2 linked regions of the Homo sapiens genome follow. The protein of the gene in region 1 interacts with the protein of each later gene in a pairwise test. Each region holds a gene or a part of one and is shown in the gene's direction. Other genes may lie near its edges.

Evidence for each region.
Region 2: the proteins of CD72 (region 1) and NRG1 interact in binary tests that used the Homo sapiens proteins (3 or more experiments, as listed by UniProt).

What each region holds. Positions count from the first base shown.
Region 1 is NC_000009.12:35,612,271-35,615,563, reverse strand, and holds part of CD72 (B-cell differentiation antigen CD72), read left to right. Parts: intron 1-2,570; coding exon 2,571-2,716; intron 2,717-3,293. UniProt on the Homo sapiens protein: Co-receptor of B cell receptor (BCR) that plays both positive and negative roles on B-cell functions. Recognizes the Sm/ribonucleoprotein (RNP) self-antigen ligand, and coligation of CD72 and BCR inhibits BCR signaling.
Region 2 is NC_000008.11:32,764,590-32,768,416, forward strand, and holds part of NRG1 (pro-neuregulin-1, membrane-bound isoform isoform HRG-alpha proprotein), read left to right. Parts: 3' UTR 1-3,827. UniProt on the Homo sapiens protein: Direct ligand for ERBB3 and ERBB4 tyrosine kinase receptors. Concomitantly recruits ERBB1 and ERBB2 coreceptors, resulting in ligand-stimulated tyrosine phosphorylation and activation of the ERBB receptors.

The sequences.
Region 1 (3,293 bases):
TCGTTATAGCTGAGATCTCCCCAAAGGGTAAGACTTACTGGCTGACATGGAGTGCAACCTGGTGGTGGGGCAAGGCAGTGAGGCGCTCAGCACTCACAGTGAGGTGGAGCTGGGAGTTGTGGTGTAGGGAACTAGGATGGGGTGTCCATTCATTTTGAAAGCAGGACCCCAGCCAGTAAGTGGAGATGGGGAAAGGGACACATAAAAGAGGCAAGGCTGTATCAAAACAGGCTGAGGGTCTAGGCAAGGTGCCACGCCTAAGGGGACTGGGGTGTTTTTGGGCTATGATCAGGTTTAGGCTCTGTCTAGCTTGGGGGTCATCTGGGTGATCTCCCCAGGCATAAGACAGCAAGATTATGTGCAGACACCCCTTGCCCTCATTTCCTTAACCTTACCCTCTGTGACCATCAGTTCCATGCCAGGGCTGCTCTTAGCAGCATGTTAGACCTCTACCTCCCAAATTGCTCTTCCGGCGAAAGGATGGTTTCAGACTTCCACTCTGATCACAGCTGCCCACCACTCCTGCAGGTTTTCCCCACACTTTTTTGATCTCATCAAGGCCTCCAATCTGCTGACTCCCCTTTTTCTCCCTTCCCATCAGTCCAGGCCTCCAATCAACTGATTCCCCTTTTTCTCTCTTCCCATCAGCTTCTCCTGTCCACACTTCTCTCCCTACCTAACATGGGTTTGGAGCCCATCACTTCAACTACTCACTTATTTTTTTAAATAGAGACAAGGTCTCACTATGTTTCCCTGGCCGGTATCGAACTCCTGGACTCAAGCGATCCTCCTGCCTCAGCCTCCCAAAGTGCTGAGATTACAGTCGTGAGCCACCGCACCTGGCTCACTCACTTCTTTGTTCCATTATCCTTCTAGTGTACCTGATGGGCAAAATTTGAACTCTGGATGAACCCAACTGCCCATGGTCAGCATCAAGGTGTGACAAATTGTGGAATCATTCTGCTCAGTGCCACTGAGACTCTAGTCTCTCAGCACTGCCTGGCAACCTTTGCAATGGTCAGCTTGCTCTCCATAGTAACTCCTTCTCCCTCACTTTCAGCAGATGTCCTCATCTTCCACTCTTTCAGAGAGGAATTCCCTTCACTTTCCATCACCAAGTCTATATATCCATATGGATTTTTGCCCATCCTCATCTTTTGCAAGGATATCTGCAACAGCTTTCTAAATGTTTTTCCTACTCACTCCTCTCCCTGCAGTCCATTCTTCATATTGGAGCCAGGGTAATCTTTTACAAACAAAAATCTGATCGTGTCACCCAATCTACAGCATTCCAGTTAATTGATTACATAAACAGTTATGGAATACATAACATATAATATGTTCTAGCACTGTGCCCAGGCACTTGGGATATAGCTAGTGAACAAAATTCCTCTATGTAAAACCCTACACTGACTTTCTCTTCCTCATAATATAAAAATAAAAATCCTTAACATGGCTTCCATCACTCCTGCCTACCTTTCAGTGTGCCACTTATCTCCTCACCCTCTTCCATTTGGCCATACAGATTTCTTTTTTTTTTTTTTTGAGGCGGAGTCTCGCTCTGTGAGACTGAAGTGCACTCCCAGGCTGGAGTGCAGTGGTGTGATCTGGGCTCACTGCAACCTCTGCCTCCTGGATTCAAGCTATCCTTTTGCCTCAGCCTCCCGAGTAACTGGGATTATAGGCATGCGCCATGGTGCCTGGGTATTTTTTGGTATTTTTAGTAGAGGTGGGGTTTCACCATGTTGACCAGGCTGGTCTTAAACTCCTGACTTCAGGTGATCCACCCCGCCTCGGCCTCCCAAAGTGCTGGGATTACAGAAGTGAGCCATTGTGCCCAGCAGGGATTTCTTTTTATTCCTTTAAGTTGCCATAGGACAGTAGCTCAAGGGAGTAGCAGGGTGGGGACATGAGCATATGTAGAGAGAAGAGAGGGAGCTAGTGGAGAGGGAATGATTTTTGAGTGATGAAGGTAGGACTGATGGAACAAAGCAATGGAGAGAGGTGGCCTGGGATCAGAAGTGCACATTGGGATGTAGGATGTTGAAGAAAGAGGGATATTTATTTCTTATGGATAGTCAGGAAAAGAAGAACAGAGAAGAGAAATTTTGAGGTGGAGAGGAGGGAAAAGGAGAGAGCTCAGTTTCTGCAAAACAGTACACAACATTTTCTGCTTGTAGGAAATTGGAGAGGGACGGAGGGGGCCAGTGCTGGAGGAGTGGAGGATGTGCAGTGAGGGGTGCTTTAGGGAGTGGAGGAGATGGGCCCAAGAGATGTTAGGTAAAGTGTCAGGGTGGACTGCAATTGTTCAGAAATTGGGGTAATAAAATCAGCCCTATTAAGACAGACCTCCCAGATTGCTAAGAAGTAATGTTGTTGAATGTTAAAGTCTTTTTACTAAGTAAGGACAGGTATGGTGTTTCCAGGGGATGCAAAAGAAAGATTGCAAAGATCATAGAAGTCCATGAAGGTGCTGAGATTAGCTCTGGGGGAATATTGTTAGCAAAAGATTGCTGAGTAGTCACTTTCATCCCAACTGTTGCTGCTATCACACTCTTTCTGCTTTTTAGACACCTGCTGTCCGTCGGGATGGATAATGCATCAGAAAAGCTGCTTTTACATCTCACTTACTTCAAAAAATTGGCAGGAGAGCCAAAAACAATGTGAAACTCTGTCTTCCAAGCTGGCCACATTCAGTGAAATTTATCCACAATCAGTAAGCATATCCTTACTCACAGACTGCAGTGGGTACTATTAGGTAAAGGGACATATGTCATCAAGTCAGGAATGGCAGTGCACACATGGCTGGGGTGGCCATTCCTTTTCCATGGAAGAAACTGAGAATCATAATACTCTTGACCTCTGAGCTTGGAAACAACCTCTGCATCTTCTCAGCACAGTGGTCCAGGCAGCCCCTAGTAACTGATTAGAGTTGGCATGAGAATGGAAACTTAACCATATCTACATTTTTTTTTTTTTGAGACAGAGTCTCACTCTGTCACCCAGGCTGGAGTGCACTTGCATAATCTCAGCTCACTGCAACCTCCGCCTCCTGGGTTCATGCAATTCTCCCGTCTCAGCCTCCTGAGTAGCTGGGACTACAGTCACATGCCACCACGCCCAGCTAATTTTTGTATTTTTAATAGAGTCGGGGTTTCACCATATTGGTCAGGCTGGTCTCTAACTCCTGGCCTCAGGTGATCCACCTGCTTCAGTCTCCCAAAGTGCTGGGATTATAGGTGTGAACCACTGCGCCCGGCCTCTACTTTAATGTGTATCTCATCTCAGCTTGC
Region 2 (3,827 bases), on another chromosome or scaffold:
TTTCAAAACGAGAAAGATATCAATGGTGCCTTTATGTTATGTTATGTCGAGAGCAAGTTTTGTACAGTTACAGTGATTGCTTTTCCACAGTATTTCTGCAAAACCTCTCATAGATTCAGTTTTTGCTGGCTTCTTGTGCATTGCATTATGATGTTGACTGGATGTATGATTTGCAAGACTTGCAACTGTCCCTCTGTTTGCTTGTAGTAGCACCCGATCAGTATGTCTTGTAATGGCACATCCATCCAGATATGCCTCTCTTGTGTATGAAGTTTTCTTTGCTTTCAGAATATGAAATGAGTTGTGTCTACTCTGCCAGCCAAAGGTTTGCCTCATTGGGCTCTGAGATAATAGTAGATCCAACAGCATGCTACTATTAAATACAGCAAGAAACTGCATTAAGTAATGTTAAATATTAGGAAGAAAGTAATACTGTGATTTAAAAAAAACTATATTATTAATCAGAAGACAGCTTGCTCTTACTAAAAGGAGCTCTCATTTACTTTATTTGATTTTATTTTTCTTGACAAAAAGCAACAGTTTTAGGGATAGCTTAGAAAATGGGTTCTGGCTTGCTATCAGGGTAAATCTAACACCTTACAAGAGGACTGAGTGTCACTTTCTCTCTGGGGGAATGATCCAGCAGCTTATCTAGTTGACAATCAAAACACGGCTGATAAAGGTGCAATCATTTCTGACATGTATTTTTCACTGATTTTGAAGCTAGTGATTGGTTGTGTCTTCTTGGCTCAAAAAGAAGCATATTACGGCACAAAAAGCCCAGCCCAGACAGCACATGCAGCATTTTGTCTGAAATACTTCTAGAGTCAAACGTGCCTGCTGTACATAGCGATGACTTGTCATCATAGGGAAGTATTTCCATCGTAGAGTGTTCAGAAGGAGTGACTGTATAGGTGGAGAGAAGCTTAGTGACTCCGTTGAAATTTTAAAATGTGGATGACCACCCCTTTCTCCCCCTTATTTTTCTTTTATCTTTCCATGTTGCCTTGATCAGGTCATAACTATGCATGAACATTTTTTATCAGGAATGGCCGATGTGTATGTGATTTGTAATCACAAGTAATGATTCATCAGGAAATGTCAATCCTGTTGGAAAGATTGCACCTTTACTTGCAGAAGTGACCCCCACCTGTGTCCTGACCTCTCCATTTACAGGCTCTCTCACCCATTTCCCCCACCTCCTTTAATTTTTGCTTTACTGTCATAAAGTAGGACTAAGATTGGTCTAAGCATTGCATGTTCTTTTGTGATGGTAAATCCAAAGGAAGGCCTATAAGTATTAACATTTGAAATAACTGCTAATTCAGGAAAATGGAAGAAAAAAAATTATTTGAAACACAGAACCCATTTCATGGCCTGCCTGATATCTGTGAAATCAGGGCTGGAGCTTTACTTAGGATTCACATGGCCTCCTAGGAACCATGGGACAAATGGGAAACAGGTTATCGGGGGATTCATGAAGTCAGTGAGAGTAATTGCTTCTTTTTTGCGGGTGAACTGAATGTATTTCTTCACCAAATCTTGATGTTAACAATTAAAAAGAAGAAATGACATGCAAGTAGGTCTTAGCAGAAAAATGCAGGCTGGGCATGAGTCATGTTGTTACCCTCCCACATGCTCCTACAATCCACAGAGATGCCTGTCTGCAGGTTCTTGAAGTTATTGTTAGTATTTGGTATCTCAAATTTTTCGTCACTGTTCACATGCCACTTTCTCTGTGCACAGTGGTATCCTCATTTGCTTTTTAACCTACACTGAGGAGTCTTTGTCAGGTTGCACTGATTTTCCAATTCTGCAGTAATGAGTAAGCTCACGGCATGGGGAAGAAGACAGTCAGTCCAATGAAGTTCTCTAAATTATTTTAACATTGCCTTTGAAGGCCTTGACTCATCCTTAGCTATTTCAATGAAGAAATTCCTACCATGAATTTAAAACCCTAAAAATTCTGTTTCAAATTCTTTGGGCATTGGGGTACTCAGATATCCCATTGTGGAAGAATTTTAAGAATAAATAGAAGTTTCTGTTGAGAACCATGAGCAACATGTTTCTTACAATGAGAATTGCTATGCATTTTAAAATTGCAAATATATATGAAAATTGAAGACAAGAGGAAATTGTATTTCTAACTTGATTCTGATCACTCACAGAGGTGGCATATTATTATAGTTGGGACATCCTTTGCACCCTTCATAAAAAAGGCCAGCTGACTGCTCAGCATCACCTGCCAAGGCCACTAGATTTGTGTTTACAGGGGTATCTCTGTGATGCTTGTCACATCACTCTTGACCACCTCTGTTAATAAATTCCGACAGTGCAGTGGCGATCGGAGTGTGAACTTATGTTCCCAGCATATGGAAAGCTATCTTAGGTTTTAAGGTAGTAGAAATTGCCCAGGAGTTTGACAGCAACTTTGTTTCCCGGGTCTAAAATCGTATCCCACTGAGGTGTATGCAGTGGAGCATAATACATGCAAATACATGCAAAACTCCTTTTGTTTCACCTAAGATTCACTTTCTATCTTACTTTCCCTTCCTGCCTAGTGTGACTTTTGCCCCCAAGAGTGCCTGGACAGCATTCTAGTTTCTACAAAATGGTCCTCTGTGTAGGTGAATGTGTCCCAAACCTGCTATCACTTTCTTGTTTCAGTGTGACTGTCTTGTTAGAGGTGAAGTTTATCCAGGGTAACTTGCTCACTAACTATTCCTTTTTATGGCCTGGGGTTAAAGGGCGCATGGCTCACACTGGTGAAAATAAGGAAGGCCTGGTCTTATCTTGTATTAATAATACTGGCTGCATTCCACCAGCCAGAGATTTCTATCTGCGAAGACCTATGAAACACTGAAGAGAAATGTAGGCAGAAGGAAATGGCCACATATCACAAGTTCTATTATATATTCTTTTGTAAATACATATTGTATATTACTTGGATGTTTTCTTATATCATTTACTGTCTTTTTGAGTTAATGTCAGTTTTTACTCTCTCAACTTACTATGTAACATTGTAAATAACATAATGTCCTTTATTATTTATATTTAAGCATCTAACATATAGAGTTGTTTTCATATAAGTTTAAGATAAATGTCAAAAATATATGTTCTTTTGTTTTTCTTTGCTTTAAAATTATGTATCTTTTCCTTTTCTTTTTTTTAAGAATAATTTATTGTTCAGGAGAAAGAATGTATATGTAACTGAAACTATCTGAAGAATGCACATTGAAGGCCGTGAGGTACTGATAAACTAAAGAATTTATTATTCAAAATACTAAGCAATAAGTAATTGTGATTTATTTAAAGTTTTGTCCATTTTCCATGAAAGACATACTGCAATAAAAATGCTACTCTGTGGAGACCTGGGAGTGTTGCTCAGCAGACTACAGCTTCAGTCTGTTAGACCAGCACCTTTCATCTCATTCCCATAGTTATGCTAATTTAGGATTGTGTTCCATGGACCCCATGATCACCTTGTCTATACGTTGCTTCTTGTCTGTCCATTGCTTTTGCCACACCACCTGTTCTCAAATCATCTCCTCCCTACCAATGCTGTTTATCACTTTCTTCCTTGTTGAAGAGGCCACACAACCAGACAGTACTATGCTTCCTTTTTCCTCCATACACAATAACAGAGAGAGAATATTCTAGGGCATGACTGCCTGGATCCTGGCTGTTGCTATCTTTTGTAGTGGCAGTAAGAAACTCCTTCAGACTAATGAAAATGTCAACGTGCCATTCAATCACGAAAGGTAACGAAAAATGCTCTCATGGTTCAAATAGTCCAATGGCCCATAGTGGCCTAAAAGGCAGCCAGT